Linked DNA regions of Homo sapiens: region 1 is linked to region 2. A link means that fine-mapping ties the variant in region 2 to the expression of a gene that starts in the linked region. Tissue or cell type: cultured neurons. Region 2 holds a variant in brackets; the other region holds the start of a gene. All regions are shown on one strand. Distances are between the middles of the regions.

Region 1 (9,055 bases), 55 kb after region 2:
AGAATTAAAGTTACATTTCTCTAAAAGGAATTACTGTTTACCTCACACTCCCTAATCACTTCACATAAAACTGAAATCTTAATTTAAAATTTTAGAATTTCTTCCAAATTATGCTTTTCCTAATAAGCACCAGAAAGGAGGATTAAATGAAATTAAATAAAACTCAAACTCCTGGTTTTTATTTACTCTTATATTATTAATTACTACATCTTATTTTGAGAAAGTAAAAATACCACAATGGGGTATTTCAAACATGTAACACAGATATGTTCAAATATTTCTATGACAGTTTGATGATGGATTGGTACCAAAAAATTAAATATGAAATTAGTTGAAGAAGCCTTAGAAAATACATTTTTCGGCTGCAAGTAAAGAAAATTTTGTATTGGTATAGCTTGCTCATATTTTTGAAATTTAATAATGATTACTATGAAGAACCAAGTTTACTGCCATAGTAAAAACTTTCACTTTACATCCCTAAAAAGAATCTCAAGTAGACTGTTTTTCTTTTTTCAAGTAATGTATAACTTTTCCTTAAAAGCAGAAAATATTATAATGATCTCTAGAACAGGTTCAAAAATGTTCTCAGATAACTTTAGTAAACAAATTGTTGAATAACTTTAAAAAGGAAGCATCCTATATACACTTCTCAAACATTGAAAATTATCTATTTAATGTTCAACTCTGATTTACTTTCATTATTTACTTGAAATCTCTTTTCAAGTAACAAAAGTTATTGACAACTCTTCAGAGTTAAGAGAAACAATAAGCGACATTGTTGAAATTTCCTTTAGGTGTATGAGAAAATATTTCTCCAAATAATATAACTAGGATTATAAGGTTACTGGAACACTTCTGATTTCTCCTTTCACTGAATTTTAATTTTTAATGGAAATAGATGATTAGCCACTAGTGAATATTCCAACCAACAGAGGGGAAGCAGAACACTCTACACTCTTTAGGGAAACAAACTATTCTCTCCAACTAGGTTATCAGAGATTTAAAGTTCAAGTTTAAATTTTACAATTTGAATTTTACACAATGTTTTCTCCTTTAAAAATGACGTATTTAATTGGTTTGGACCAAACAAAACATATTTTTAAATTTAAAGAAATGTTTATGCTATCATAATGAAAGCTATCACACAACCTATATTACTCACAAATTACTAAATATGTAGAATTGGGAAAATAAGTTGGGAAGAACTAATTCACTATAACAATTCCAAAGTCTCAGGAAAAAAAAGAATCAATCACATAAACCCATCTCTAACACACTTATTCAAACATCTGCATAAGACAACCTCTAAAAATAAGTTGCTTCAGTTCGTGAAAATTAAGCAAGCACAACTCCTCTATTATCTTTAGTAAAAATATGTTTATCCCTTGAAATAAAAGTTGTAGAGACAATCACAGGAATATATGAAGGCCTTTTAAACATTTATAATGAAGCCCTTACCACCTCCATCCCCAAAAAAACAAACCCTCTGCTTTCTTAAGATGTGAAGTATTCCTCCCGTCTGCATTCCCTCCCTGGCATGCCCCCCACTCGCACACCCCCCCACCCGCAGTAGGCCTGAGGCCCCGTAGCAAACAGTGTCTAACAGGAGCAGGCAGCACAAAGACAGGAATGGGAGATTAGTGGGAGGGAGGGAGGCCGGGATTGGGGCTCAGCAGGAGCTTCAGGCTTTTTAAAATTCAAACTGCTCCCTGACCAATACAAATCACGGACACGCTACTGACTACTACACGGATTTATAGCATTAAAAACATGCCTAGTACGTGACAGCTATATTAACTTCATTCTTTTAAACATTTATCCGTACGTTTGCAGGAAATGTGAAACAATTTATTGTAATCAGGACGCTAAACTCAAAAATAACCTCCACAAAATAACTTATTCTACAGTGACAATAATTTAATGACACAAAAAATATGAACCAATGTAACAAACACTAGTAAAACAAGGGATTTCGCTGAGCAGTGCTGCTTCATTTTAACCAATGAAAGTTTTCCTTCAGCGAATATGAAACAAAATATCAAAACGTGTAACCCAGGTACACTTTTCTAGCAATTTGCCTGACTGAGGAATTTTAAATTGGTGTTTCCCCCTTATACCAACCTACATTATGAACGCCTCCATAAACAAGCTCGAAACACTTAACTTACTCATGAACTAGAACTTGTCAAGTTAGAACTGATATTTTTCTCCAGCATTTACAGATACATTTAACCTATTAAAATGACACCTCTCTCATTACACAGTCAAACATCATGGCACAAACAGCCAATGACAATCCTGGGACCTCAAGAAGAACTGCCCTGACATAAAAGGATGGCACCTTCTACAATTTTTTAACCTCCCAAGGATTTTAAGTATAACTTAATTTCTTTTTTGGAAAAAGAAAAGAAAAGTGGTTTTACCCGTATCTCAGCACAATTCTCAGAACACTTAAAATTCTTTGTATGCTCCTACACGTTTTGGTCAGGAAGTACCTGAGTGTTTTACGTATAGTCGCTTAAAACTGCCCTTACATAACGCATACAAATAGAAAGTGGCAGAGTAAACCTGTCAAGTACTTTATACTTGTCTTTGAATAAAAAGTCCATGTGCAACAACACACTGTCAAAACAACAAGATAAAAGCTCTTGGGGAGGGGGAGATGTGCAGTGTCTACCACAGTATGTTTTTCTGTATTAAATATTCATGTGGACGATTTAATTCTTTAAAAAAGAAAATGAGTCTTTATGAACTTTCCAACGTCCAAACAAGTTTTAGAAAGAGAAAGAATTACCACTGGATCCGCGTCTGAGTATTTACGTTTGTCTCACTAACTGAAACTACTTCCTCCCTTCATGGGGTCACAGGGGGAAGAAGGGAGGTTGTTTGTTTCACTGGGACGTTCCCCACTCCCGGACCGGGAAAGTTGTAAATATGGGGACGATCAGGGCACATTTGCTGTTAGTTGTATTGTTTCCGCCTCCCCACTAGCTACGGCTCCACTCCCGGGCGAGGCCTGTCACCGACCAGCAGTCGCTCCGCTCAGCCCGGAGCTCTCCTAATCCCCGAGCTCAAGTAGATTCCGCTGGCCCGCGGCCTGCACTCTCCGCCGGGCCTACGCCTCCCCGGCCGCCCAGCAGGAGCCCAGTCCCCGCCACCGGAGCCGGCCGGGAGAGGGTACAAAACCACCGCTACCCAAGGCGGCTGCCACCAGAGAGGAGCGAACTCTAGACTCGCCTGTGGAAGAGACCTGGGGCCGCTAAGGAAACGGCGGGGAGGGGAGCGAGGAGGAGAGACGCTGAGGACCTGGCGCCGGCGCCGCCGCCGCCGCCGCCGAAATAAAGAGCAGGAATTTACCTGGGCGAATCGGCGTCTGAATCCAAGGGGAGGCCGAGGCCGCTGTGGCGAGAGACTATAATCCGGGCCGGGAGGGGGGGTGGCTACGGCTCCTCTTCCGTCTCCTCAGTGCGGGGAACATGTAGAGCCGGGGGGAGACCAGCCGAGAAGACAAATCGTTGCTTCTTCTTCCTCCTCCTCCTCCTTCTCCCACATAGAAACACTCACAAACACCCGACCACGGGCCCGAGCTACCGGGGGGGCATCGCCGCGGGCCCGGGAACCAATTCTCCTGTCGGCGGGGGCGTCCCTCCCTGCGGCTTGGTGGTGTCGGGTGAGTCGGTACCGACGGAGGGAGGGGGGGGAGGGCGGGGGGAAGGAGCCCTGTGTGTGTCTCTCTCTCGTTCCGTCTCTCCCTCTCAGAACAAAATGCCGACCGGAAGTGCAGCTGCAGGAATGACTCCCTCCGCCGGCGCCAAACACTAACAACCACCCCCTCTTCCCCACTCCACTTCCGCCACCGCCGCAGCCGCCGCTGCCGCCACTTGGGCTCGCGTCCTCGGCCGCGCCGCGCGGCACCCGGGCCCAGCAGCCGGGAGGCGGCAGCTCTCCTCTACGCCCGTCCCCTCAGGGCGGCTGTGGATGTTGCCAGTATTGTCGATGCTTCAGAGCGACGTTTGCCCTGCGACACAGGCGGGCCGGCTCTCCTCTGTCTTTATTTTCCTGGAGGCCGACAGGAGCGGGGCCCGAGTTCGGTGGTGGTCGTGAGCGTGGGGGGCACTCAGGCCCGGACGGGCTCTCAGGTCGCCGACGGCGGCGGCTGGAGGCCGCGCTGGCTGTCCCAGGTCGTCGTTAGCTTTAGGGAGCCGATCTCCGGGCGGCCCCACAGAGGACGCCCGCGATTCGATGGCGATGATGCCCGTTTTAAATGGTGTCCCTGCAGCCGGGTGGATGGATGGATCGTACACCTTGCCTTTTGAGAGCCGGGACCTTACGCCCGACTGCGTGTTATTTCTGCGAATAAGAACGCAACCTTTGGAGGTGAAGACGACTGTCGGCTGGATTGAATTGGAATCGTGTTTGTGATGATGCGTTTATTTCTGGAAATACGCGGTCTCCGCTGCTTTTGCTTTTTGTCGGCAGAGGTTTGGGTTCTTCTCTAACGGTCAGGATAAAGGCCTGTAGGCGACGCTGCGCGAGCGAGAAGCTCGCCCGCGGCTGCCCGGGCGCCCCCCTCTAGGTGTGGGTGGAGCCGAGCGCGCGGGGAGAACCGCCGGCCCCGACTCAGCCACCGGTGACTGCGGGCGACCCGCGGGCCTGCGGCCAGCTGATTTCAAACATCGTTTTCCTCTTTAGGTTCGGAAAACTGAGGCGCTGGACAAGGCTGGAATACAATATGTGATTATACGTACAGTACTATGGTTGTTGTAGTTTTTAAATTGTAAAACAAGAAGTAACCATTGTTCCACCGTTCTCTATTAAGTTTGTGTAAATTAAAAAGGGGCTATTTTCGGTAAAAAGTGCAGTAGGTAAGCGGAATTTTACTCAACCGGGACGAAATTCGTGTTATATGAATTGTATTGTGTATTTGTGTGTGTACCAGTGCGCTAAAAGTAAGTAGGAAAACTTGCTTAGATTATTCCTTTTGCCTCAGGCCACTCAGGGGGCCAAGATCCTGTCACTCCTTTTCTCTAGGCCCTGCGAATGGCTTCCCGTCTTGAGGGGAGTGAGCCAAAGCCTTGACTGCGGCAGAAGTCCCCGCGCGCCGTTGAGGGTGGGGGCGGGCCTGCCCTGGCATCCTTGCGAGTAGGACTCTTCCCTGAGCGTCGTCCACAGGGCTTGCTCCTTCACCTTCAGGATTTTGCTCGTGTCACTCGGTGCTTCCGCGGCTACTTTTAAACTGAAAGTTCCCTAGCCCCCTTCTCATTTTATCCTTTGGACAGTCTACATATCCATACTTGTTTATCTTCTTATCTCTCCTTCCCCAGTGCAATGTAAGCTCTAAGAGGACAAGAGGTTGTGTTTTTCTGCACTGGTGTTACGGCCCCCGCCTAGAATGCCACACAGTAGATGCGTAGTATGTGGTTAAGGAATGAATGCGATTATAAGGGCCTTGATGCTCCCCCATTTCTGTCTTTAATATGTACTTATATGCTACAGAGAGCTTTATAAAAGATTTAAAACACGTTTATTACAGAATTCTATAAAAATATATTGCTTCTAAACATTGGAAAGCCCTCCACAACACCAGAAACCCACAAATGAGGGATAAAATTTGTTTTTAGGCTTCTGTAAATGAGCATGCCCGAGGACAGTGCATCAAATGATCATATCCATACTGGGCCGATTATGTTTGCTCTTCTGAGTCTCAAACTGCATTCTTCATCTTGTCGTCCTCTGTCTTTCAAAATACATTAAAAGTGAGAATTTGGTTGGCTCAGAGCAAATCCAGCACTATTGGAAAAGTTCATTCAGCAAGTATTTATTGGGCACAAATGGGTACCAGGCACGCTAATTCAAAAGGTGTGTGTTTCTGAGGCTAGAAGGCCTTACATAAAGGACCACATGTGGCTACTTTGGTTGCTACTCAATTATGCTGTCAAGCAAAGCAAATGCTAGTGAAATTTATTTTTAGTTTTCTTCTGAAGAAAAGGTTCAATGAAAGCTGAGGTCAGGCTTGGTGTGGATATTTTAATTCACCATTTAGTTTGCTGTTTGCTTACACTTAGGTTAGCATTAGATATACTTAATCATGATTTTTGAGTACTATAAAACGTGAGAAATCTTATTTCCTAGTGGCTGGAAAAACAGGCTTTTTAAATTAAAATAAGTAAATATATCAGTAAGCTAGAAGCTATGCAATAAGGCTTTGGCTATGGTATTACAAATTTTCATATTTCATGTATTGAATTTTTGGACAAGAAAAGACAGCCTTGATAGGTATTTTATAACCATTAATACAATTAATCAAACATTGTTTAGTAAATCCAATCGTCTATTCATTATTATTTTTCCCATTAATCTTCAGAACAGCTTTAAGTTAATACAGATGACTCAGAATGTGTTTTTCACTCAGTTTCAAAATACCATTATTTCAATTCGCTAATAGAAGCACAATTATCTTCTTGTCTGCTTTCTTAAATGTTACTGGTAAACTAGTAATTTTGCATGTCCAGGTAACTGCAGCTGCTACAGTCAATCTGCTTTGGAAAGTCTTGGCATTATTGTGTCATTTAATTTAAAATTTTTAAGTTTTTTTAGTTTCTTCCCTTATTGAGGACTTATTAGGCGCTAATTAGCTTTATGCTAGACATCTCATGCATGGCAGTGAATGAAAACAACACTGCCTTTGAGGGTTTTAACTTGTATATAGTTTATACCATTTTTTTTCCAGGTTATAGAATCAAAGAAATTGTTTCAATTCATATCACAGTATTTCTCTATTAAATCAAATGGTATTTTGCTTGCATAAATTTAAGTATCCAAGTTGAGATCTTACATAGAATCTGTTAATCTAATATTAGTGTTTTCTTCATTTCATTGTCTTGGGTTTTTTTTTCTTAATAATTATTTTTCCCAATACCATCCATTTGTTTTGCTCTTACATTTTTAAGTCTTTTATGTTCCAAATCAGGTGACTTACATCCTCCACTTGTCCATTGAGGATAGCCCAGTAAACCTTTATTCTGACTTTAAATTGCCTCCTTGCTTCAAGAACTGAGTTGCATGACTCAGTTTTCTTTGCTAGAAATATCCCTGGATAGTCTCGTATGTATTCTTGATCAATGAATTGCAGAAGATTTGATTAAAAATTTTAAATGGATTTCAGGGATAAACTATTTGTATCAAATGTCATCACCAGGAATTTCTACAACTGAAAAATTTGAATTGTTATTTTTATTGAAGAATATTTATCTTTAAGATAAATGCAACTTGCTATAAAATGATAGAAATGAAAAATTTTAGAAAATCATTTTCTACTCACTATTTTATGCCTGCCAGTTATCCTTTGTTAGTGATAAAATTGTCTTTTATGGGAACGAATTTGTTAAAGGTAGAAAAAAAACTGGTAGTGTATGTATGTTTTATAGATTAGACACTACCAAAATTATTTAACATTTAGAATAATTAACTTGCTTTCAGGATGACAGATGACTTAAGAAACTGATGAAGGGTTAATTAAGGATATTGATTTTTAGGGCAGAACTACAAAATTATCAAATCACTTAACACTGTAAATATGTTCCTGTTTCAGGTTTTCAAAGTAAATACCTTAATCAAATTTGGAAATAGTATTTATGGATTTTATTCAACATAGATTATCTATTTTGTTAAAATTATAGAAATGAACAGTTCTTTTCCCATGGATGCCTTTTTTCATCTTGGCCTATTCTGATCCTTTAAGAACAAGCTTTGTCCTTTCATTAATACTTCTCACCTATAATTACGAATTTTCTCTAAACTTGTAGATTTTATTATCCATGCCATCTATTTATAATCCTATGACACTCCTATATTGTTTATGGTTTTTTTGTTTTTTTTTGTTTTTTTTTTTAGACGAAGTCTTGCTCTGTCACCCAGGCTGGAGTGCAGTGGTGCAATCTCGGCTCACTGCAAGCTCCGCCTCCCGGTTCACGCCATGCTTCTGCCTCAGCCTCCCCAGTACCTGGGACTACAGGCGCCCACCACCACGCCCGGCTAATTTTTTGTACTTTTAGTAGAGATGGGGTTTCACCGTGTTAGCCAGGATGGTCTCCATCTCCTGACCTCGTGATCCCCCGGCCTCGGCCTCCCAAAGTGTTGGGATTACAGGCGTGAGCCACTGTGCCTGGCCTTACTGTTTATGTTTTCATGCATCTATACCTTATGTTACTAAATCAAAGTGACCAGTTCCACATTATACTACAAGTTTCACTGTGTAATGCATAAGAATTACACAGAGGGAAGGGCCTCAAAAAATGCACTTCTGAAGTATTTTAATGTAAAATTATTTAAGACCATAAAGTTTCATGAAAGCCTAATCTTTCTGGAACCTACACATACTCTGCATGTGAACCAGAGTTAAACTAGTCAAGTATTTTAATACTGAACTAATCTGGAAAAACATCATTTAAAAAATTACTGTATTTATGAAGGAAGAATATAAAATCTGTTAAAAACTTAAAACATCTAAAATAGGTATGAAGAGAGGCTTATGGTGCTCATTTTAACAGCATTCTTGAGTAGGTTACCTTGCAGTCAAAGCATCTGCTCCAGACCAGTGTTTTAAACTGTGGATTATGGTACCACTATGGGTCATGAAATTAATTTATTGCATTATGACTAGCATTTTTTATTTAAAATAGAGAAAAGAATAGAAAATAAAAGCGTACATCACAGATGGTAAGGGTATGTGTTTTTAAGTAAACATTTGTTCATGTGTATATGTGTTAGATTACCTTGTAAAACATATTCCTTATTGTGGGTTACAGGCCAAAAAAAGTGTTTGTTTTTGTTTTTAAAAATCTACAGTTCAGATTTTCCTTAGAAAATGGGGAAAAAAGGAATGTTAGAAAGATCTGACTGCCTATGAACTAGTGAAGGATTTTAGAGGAAGTACCAGGCTATTTTAGAGATCTGATACTGGTTTCAGAAAGGTAATCTTAAGGCAAAGGGTAGGAAATAAAGTTATGTTGTTAGTAGAAATGTCAAATACGGTTAAAGTTGTGAGGAGGAATTA
Region 2 (9,055 bases):
CAACTGGTCACTGAATCTTGAAGTCTGAGAACTGATCACTAGACTTGATGCAAGTTACTGGTGACTTAGAGAAGACCCATTTTGAAAACGGTGGGACAGAAGAGCAGAAACCTGTTTAGAGTAGGTTTAACAAAGAATAGGAGGACAAATGTGATGTCAGGTACTTGTGAAAACTTTTCTGATTGCCTTGATGAAGAAGAGATGTTGGAGGTTTTCAGGAGAGGAAAAAGAATGAAACAATCATCTAGGAGAGTGAATGGATCAAAGAAGTGTGGTACAATTGCTGGGTAACATTAAGAGCCCACTGCCTTTAAAGTGAGACCAGTCATTATGTTTTTTGAATTATTTTCCAGTCCCACTTAGCTGCAAGGGTGAGATTTAACCAAAGCTGTGGTTTTGCCAAAACAGAGAGGAGCGAAGGAACTGAAGGTATTTGTATGCAAGGAAATGATTAAATGACCTTTGAATTTAAGCTACAAGGAGGAAAAGAGGGACACTGAAGAGAAGAGAAACAGTATTGCAACATTCAACGCGCATGGTGAGTGTGAGTCCTTCTATCTGGTAACTCATTCTTTGGTTTCTGTGACTCAATCTTCTTTCTTGTACCTTAGATTGACTCTACTGACTCCACTTTCTCCAGTGGTTCATTATCTTTGATAATTTCTTAACTCTAGCTACTTAGGTCTACCTATAGCTCTTCAAAAATTCATTTATTTCCATGGCCTCTGAAAGTTCTTCATAGCTTCATTATGTGGGAATTCATTCATGATTCTTTTTTGGCACTACAAATTCTTACAGTACCAATGTATGAATGTGTCAATGTGACAATCATTTCCCCTTAAAATGTTAGTGCTCAAATATTTCTAAAATGAAAAGCCACTATCTGTAATCTTATAATTTCTACCATTGCTCCCATTCATTAGTAATCTAAACTGTAAAGTTGACCCACTGTAAATCAAGGACTGTCTATGTTACTATTTTATCATGACACCTAGACAAAAATCTATCTATCCTCTATTCCTCTATCATTTCACTTACCATCCTTCAAGTTCCAACTCTTCCTGGAAACCATCCTCTACCTACCATTTTACTTTACAATCTTTTCCTTTAATGAATTTCTGTATTAGATGCACACAAAGTCAGCATCCAGTCATGCATAATTACATTCTATCAAATCATTTCACTGGCACCTTAGGTACAGAATCTTGTCTCATTAATTTTTAAAAATTAATTTTTGAAATCTTTCCATAATACCTAGCACAATGCTGGTCATATGGTTACCAGGTTGAAATAAAATATAACACTGCTAGAGAATGTATTAGATAAAAAACACAACGTCTTACACAATCAAACACTAAGTTAAAGAGTGTGAAATCTGGATGCTGAGCAAGTTCATGTAGTTAAAATGATGACACCAGGTGGTCATATACAAACATAAATCAAGTGATCTTAATACCATGATCTTTACATGTTAAACTTACATTAGCCACGTCACATTTGTTTTTTATTAGAAAGAGAACCTCATTTTAACAGAGACCTATCAGTTAATTATAGAAACTGCCCACCCCCCCATACTCTTATTAAGAAAAATAAGAGTTGAAGTTTTACATGGACTGAAAATGTAAAAATCCTTGGGAAAATTGAGAATAAAATCCAAAACAGATCCACAAAAAGCTAGCAATATGAGTAACTTTTTACTTATAAAATATAAATATGGTATAGTTGATGAAGGAGCAAGGAAGATTAATCAATAAAAGCCAACTGGTATCTTACTGCTACCGAATTAAATGGAATTGGGTAATTTTCACTACTGGTGTCTGAAACCATACAGAAAAATCTGCTCAGCCTTAGATTTAATTAAATTAAAAAATTAAATGATCAAAAATTACCATTAGATTGACATTAAAAACAAACTTCTTTTACCATGTTATGGATTCTAATTTATAATCCTTTTCTTTCCTGAAATCGGATCAAATTTTCATCCATCCAAGACTAAAGTCCAGAAATAAAAAATGTCTCTAGAACTATATCTCATCAGATGTCAGCAAATAATATATGAGTAAGTTTTGAATAACCACTATATAAACATATCAAGTATTATTTCCACAGACCCTTTTGACCAAACAGAATCACAGAATTTTAAAGGTAGAAGAAAATTTAAAATTAAGAGTTCAAATTGGAAAAATACCATTCTACTATGTAATGAGGAAACTGGTTATTATAAGTAACCATGAAACTCGTAACAGAATTCAATATGACACTGCTAAAAATAACTAAGTATAAAAATTAGGATTTTAAAAACAGTACATTTTTAAAAAACAGTATGTTTTTAAAAACTTATCTACTTTAAACTTTATTAAAGGAAGAGTTTTTCTACTACTATACTGGAATAAAAATTTAACTATACAAGTAGATTGTGATAAATTAAGAAGCATATTGTAATCCCTACAGTAACCTCCAAGGAAATAACTCTAAAAAGTTGTTTTAAAAAAAATCAAGAGAGCTGCATGCAGTAGCGTACACCTGTACTCCAATGTACTCCTATATGCCTGTACTCCCAGCTACTCACAAGGCTGAAGTGAAAGGATCACTTGAGCAGAGAGTGTGAGTCTGTAGTATGCTATGATGGCAGTTGTGAATAGCCAATACACTTCAGCCTGGGCAACAGAATGAGATCCTGTTCTTTAAAAAAAAAAAAAAAAAAAAAAAAACAGCAGAGGAATTTAAATAGTACACTAAAAGAATATTTAACACAAAAGAAGGCAGTAAAGGAAGAATGGCATAAGTAAATTCACCCATATCAAAAATCACATTAAATGGGAATAGGCTAAATATGACAATCAAAAGCCAAAAACTATCATATTGGTTCAAATAACAAGACCCAATTATATACTTCTACAAAAGACACTCTTTGATTCAAAGATACAAATAGGTTGAAAGTAAAATAATAGAAAATATACTCCATACAAACAGAAACAATAAAAAAGCTGGAATGGCTATTAACAGCAGATGAAACAGACTTGAAGATAAATAGTAATAAAGAAAAAGAGGGATATTTCATAATGATAGAGTCAGTACATAAGGAAGATATAACGTTTATACATGTATTCATACCTAACAACGAAGTTGCCACATATATGAAGCACAAACCGACAGAACTGAATGATAAATATAACTAGAGAGAAAATTAACAATGATGTAAAAAACTTCAGCAACACTATCAGCCAAAATGACCTAACTTAAGTTTACAGAACACTCCACCCAAAGACCACAGAATACTCAATGCCTTTTAAGCATACAAGAACATTCTCCAAAATTGATCACATGCTGGACCATGAAATAAATCTCATTAAATTTACAACAAATCATATAAAGGGTGTTCCCTGACAACAAAAGAATAAAATTAAAACCCATAACCGAAAGAAATCTGAGAAAATCAATGGGTCAAAGAAGAAATCATGAGAGAAATTAAATACTTAAAACTGCATGAAAATGAAATCACAACATATTAAACTTCATGGGATACAGCTAAAGCAGTTTTATAGGAATATTTATAGCTTTAAATGCCCATATTAGAAAGAACAGCCTCGAATCAGTATTTATGCTTCCATACCTTAAGAAACTAGAAAAAGTGTAAACAAAATCAAAAACAGGAAGAAGAAAAAAATAAAGATAAAAGTAAAAATAAACAAAAAAAAAAAA[AAC/C]CAGAGACATACGAATGAATTCAAAAATTAGTTCTTAAAAAATAATCAACAAAATTGACAATGTCTTAAATAGAATGATCAGGAAAGTAAGAGAGAACAGACACAAATTACCAAAATCAGAAATGAAGGAGAGGAAATCACTACCAATACTTTAGAAATTAAAAGGGAAGGCCCGGTGTGATGGCTCATGCCTATAATCCCAGCACTTTCCAGGCCAAGGTGGGCAGATCATTTGAGTCCAGGAGTTCGAGAGCAACCTGGGCAACAAGGAAAAACCTCGTCTCTATAGAAAATACAAAAATTAGCCAGGCATGGTGGCATGCACCTGTGGTCTTAGTTTCTCAGGAGGGTTAGGTGGGAAGATCACTTGAGCCTAGGAGGCAGAGGCTGCAGTGAGCCGAGATCACACCACTGCACTCCAGCCTGGGTGACAGAGTGAGACTCCTTTTCAAAAAAATAAAAAAAGAAAGAATTAAAAGGGAATATTAACTTTAAGCCAACAAATTACACAACTTATATTAAAAAAAAAGGAAATTCTTCAAAAGACAAATTACCAGAACAGACTCAACAAGAAATAGAAACTCTGAATAGATCCCTAACAAATAAGAAAACTGAACTACTTATTAAAAATCTTCACACTAAGAAAGCCTAGGCACAGACGATCTCACCAATGATTTTTATGAAATATATAAGAAAGAATAGCAAACTTTTATAAACTGTTTTATAAACTAGAGAATATTTCCCAGCTGAGTCTGGTATCACCAAAGCCAGACAGAGACAATGCAAGAAAACTACAGACCAATATCCCTCATGAACACACATACAAAAATTATTTTTTAAAAACTGGCAAACCAAATTCATCAACATATAAAAATGACTACACATTATGACCAAATGGGATTTATCCTGTGAATGCAAGGGTGGTTAACCATCTAAAAATAAATTAATGTAAAACATCTTATTAATAGAAATAGCAACTAAAGCTACATGACCATTTTGAAAGACACAGAAAAACACTTGACAAAATCCAACAACCACTATTTTTTAAAACTCTCAAAAATTAGAAATAAAAAGGCTCTTCTTCAACCTAATAAAGAGCATCTATGAAAATTCTACAGCTAACTTCCCTATCAGGAGAAAAACAAAAATGCCTGTTCTTATTCCTTCCACTGAATATTGTCCTGTAGGTTTTAGTTAGTACAGCAAAACACCAAAAAGTAACACATTTTAAGAAAAAAACTTAAAAAGATATTAAATGCATTCAGATTAGACAGGAAGAAATGAAACTGCATTATCAGATGACACTGTCCAGTATGTAGAAAATCCTAAGAAACCACCAACGAACAACTAGAATCAAAAAAAAGCTCAGCTAGATCACAAGATAGAAAATCAACATACAAAAATCAGTTGTATTTCTATATTCTAGCAAAAATGCAAAAATGAAATTAAGAAAACAATTCCATTCAAACTAGGACCATGAAGAATATTTGGGAATAAATTTTTAAAAATCAGTATAAGATTTGTATTTGCACACTGTTATAAGACACTGCTGAGCCAAAAAGATCTAAAACATTCCATGCTCATAAATTAGAAGACTCAAAATTGTTAATATGGTAATTCTCTTCAAATTGATCTATAGATTCAACATAATCTTTTTCAAAATCCCAGCTGTTTTTTTTCCATAGAAATAAGCTGATCCTAACTTTATAGGAAAATACAAAGGATCTAGAATAGCCAAAATAATTTAGTGAAGAAAAAAGTTGGAGAACTTATACTACCCAATTTCAAAACTTACTATGAAGCTACAGTAATCAAGATTGTGTGCTATTAATATAAGGACAGGTATACGGATTGATCAATGAAGAGAATCTAGAGTCCAGAAATAAATCTTTGTATTTATGTTAGATTTTTCACAAAGATGCCCACAAAATTCAATGGAATAAAAGACAGTCTTGTCAACAAATGATTTTTAGATAACTGGACATTTACATGCAAAAATAAATTTAAAAACAGACCATTAACTTATACCATACACAAAAATTAATTCAAATGGATCAAATACCTAAATGTATGAGCTTAAACTATAAACCATCTAAAGGAAAATATAGGAGAAAACATCTGTGACCTTAGGTCAGGCAGAGTTCTTAGATGACAAAAACAAGGCAGAGTTCTTAGATAACAAAAACATGAGCCATAAAAGATAAAACTGATAAACTGGATTTCATTAAAGTTAACAATTTTCATAGTTCAAATGATATCAATAAGAAAATGAAAAGACAAGCCATAGACTGGGAGAAAATATTGCCAAATCACAAATCTGATGAAGCTCTTGTATTCAGAATTTAAATGAACTCTCACTAGTGAACAAGAAGATAACACAACTTTGAAAATGGGCAAAGAACTTACTTAAGACACTTCACCAAAGAACACATATGAATGGCTTATAAATATACAAAAAAAAGTGCTCAATATCACTTCACCAAAGAACACATGTGAATGGCTTATAAACATATAAAAAAAAGTGCTCAGTATCATTAGTCATTAGGTATATTCTCACTGAAACCACAATGATACCATGACACATCCATTAAACTGTCATAATGTTATAAAAAAAGACACTATTAACTGTTGGTGAAGATGTAGAGAAACTTGAACCCTTACACACTGCTGGTAGAAATGTAAAATGATACAGCCACACTGGAATACAGTTTGGCTGTTTCTTAAAAAGTTAATTATCATATGACCCAGCAATTCCATTCTTAGGAATGTATCCAAGATAAATAAAAACGTATGTCTACACAAAGATTTCTCCATGAATGCTCAAAAAAGTATTACTCATAAAAGTAAAAAACTGGAAATTATATAAGTATCTACCAACTAGTGTATAGACAAACAAAATATCATAATACAATGAACTACCATTCAGCAATAAAAAAGAACAAAATACTGATACGTTATGTCATAAATGAACCTCAAAACATGCAAAGTGAAAGAAGCCAGATGCAAAATACTACATATAATTCTTTTTAGATGAAATGTCCAGAAAAATTTATAGAAACAAAGAGCAGATCAGTAGTTGCCAGGACTGGAGAGGGCTGTGGGAGTTGGGAACTCACTGCAAATAGGCTTGAGGAAAATTTGGGGACTGATGAAAAGGTTCTAAAACTAGAAACCATTAAATTGTATACTTAAACAGGTGAACTTTATATTAAGCGGATCATACCTCAATAACGTTGTAAAGTAAAATTGCATCTAGAGATATTAATCTCCTTTATCTAGCTCTAAACATTTCTCCTTAGGTCAATATATTTTTCCTTAAGAAATTTTTTTAGTTAGTAAAAACATTTATTGTACATACTGATCATATACAGTACTAACAATTTCTGGGAATGCAAAAACAAACACTGTGATTTGGTTGTATTAATTAGCTCTAACTTGCACTTGACTAAAATTTCTTGAGAAGAATAGGCAAAGCAATCATGTTTTTAAGCAAGCTTACAAACTGTCACCTGCATGTAGTTAAAGACTACTTCACTTACCCTAGGATGACAGTTACATTCAATATAATTACCCTGTTTTGAAAAGATTCACTGATATATTAAAGTAGGAAGGCATCTTACAAATAATCTAGTCCAATCTCTTCGTTTTACAGATAAGAAAAAGATGAAATTACGTGTTCAAGACCACACATTCAAAGTTAGTTGCAAAGCTTCCCAGTCTCCTGACTTTCCTGCTCTTTTTGTGCATCGAGTATGGTTTTATTGAAAGAAAGTGGTAGAAAATTTAAAAAAAAAAAATCACTGCAGCCGGGCATGGTGGCTCATGGCTGTAATCTACTTCGGGAGGCTGAGGCAGGTGGATCACCTGAGGCCAGGATTTTGAGACTAGCCTGGCCAACATGGCGAAACCCGTCTCCTTTACCACTTTATTCTCCCTTGGTGATTTCCATGTCTCAAGGATTTTAAACACTATATATATTAAAGACTCCAGCCTGGACCTCTCTCCTGAACTCCAGACTGGTATATCCAACTGCCTATTTGATATCTCCATTTGGATGTCTAACAACCATCTCAAACTTACTTCCAAAATAAATTCCTTATACTGTTCTTCGTGCTTCTTCTACAATACTCCTAATTTTGATTAAAGACAACTCATTTGTCCAGTTCCTTTGGCCAAAAATCTTATTATCCTTGACTCCTATCTTTTTTACACAACTTTTGGATCGTGAGTCTCTACCTTCAAAATATATCCAAAATTCGACCATTTCCAAGCCACCATGCTCCCTTCCCAGACTCTTAATTGGTCTTTTTCACTCTTGCACTCCTTGGCAGTTAAACATAGCAATCAGAGATTCTATTAAAATACAGGTTGGATCATGTCACTCTTTTTGAAATCCTTCAATGACTTTTTCAGAGCAAAGGCAAAATCCTTATAATGATCTACAAGTTTAGAATATGAATAACATTTTAAACCAAAAATCCGCCTTGATATTCTTTTCTCCTCTCAGTAAAATATGCCTGTATCCTCCTTGAGAAAACAATACTTATAATATGTAAGTGTTATATAAATTGGTGAGAATATAACATTAAATGAAATGGAGTGGAGGATTCTTTCTTTTCTCAGATCTCATACACCTACAACTCTTGAACTCAAGTCGTGATACAAAAGCAGATGATAGTACACTGTTAATCATAAAGCAAATATTAGAGGGAGAATATACATATTTATAGGAAAAAGTGTTTATAGTTCTAACGTCAACAAAACCAACTTCTCCTTTCAAATCAAACCAATAAACATTTTGGTTCAGCTTCAGGAAAAATTGACTCCCATTATAGGTGCTCTGATTCTAATAACTGTTTAAATTTGTTCCCGGTAAAAAAATACATGAAACCATTTGCCCTATTACCAATTTTTTTCAACTTGAATTTACACAATCTAAAATAATTGGTTTAATTCAATGTGGCAGATTAAAAACCACATGATTAGTACTCATGGCATGCCTATACCAAAATATCTCACATACCCCATAAATATATATACTTACTATGTACCCACAAAAATAAAAAATAAAAACCACAAATTATTTGCTAGTCCTCATATTGAGGTAATGGCTAATTCCTCTCCTTTGAATCTGGGCTGACCTTTGTGACATGCATGGTGAATAAAATGCAGCAGAAAGGGGCTAGGTGATAAGAAATCTTACAGCTTTCAAATAAGCATGTTGACAATACTTTTTGGAAACCCTGATCCACTATGTTAAATATCACATGACCATGAAAAAGCCATGCTGATGATGCTGTATGCAGATGCTACACATGATGTCTCCGCTGAATCGAGCCTTTTGGCTGTCT

Direction of the effects. Alleles are on the strand shown, and positions count from the first base shown. SD is a standard deviation of normalised expression in the study named.
With allele C in place of AAC in region 2, the expression in cultured neurons of the gene that starts at base 3,842 in region 1 is higher (moderate effect, 0.57 SD a copy in Aygun 2021).

What was found.
Region 1: it holds the start of NIPBL-DT, and the variant in region 2 is fine-mapped to the expression of NIPBL-DT in cultured neurons (Aygun 2021, PIP 0.95).

Annotation. Positions count from the first base shown.
Region 1 is chr5:36,871,481-36,880,535 of GRCh38, reverse strand. It overlaps NIPBL-DT (NIPBL divergent transcript), which reads left to right and starts at 3,842. Exons shown (of 1, transcript NR_046262.1): 1 at 3,842-9,055. It overlaps NIPBL (NIPBL cohesin loading factor), which reads right to left and starts at 3,767. Exons shown (of 47, transcript NM_133433.4): 1 at 3,358-3,767. RefSeq lists silencers at 3,142-3,261, 3,902-4,011 and an enhancer at 4,422-4,471.
Region 2 is chr5:36,926,435-36,935,489 of GRCh38, reverse strand. All of the region lies in intron 1 of NIPBL (NIPBL cohesin loading factor), which reads right to left. Among named protein-coding and RNA genes, the nearest start is that of NIPBL, 54 kb to the right of the region's middle. The variant AAC/C (reference allele first, on the strand shown) is at 3,703.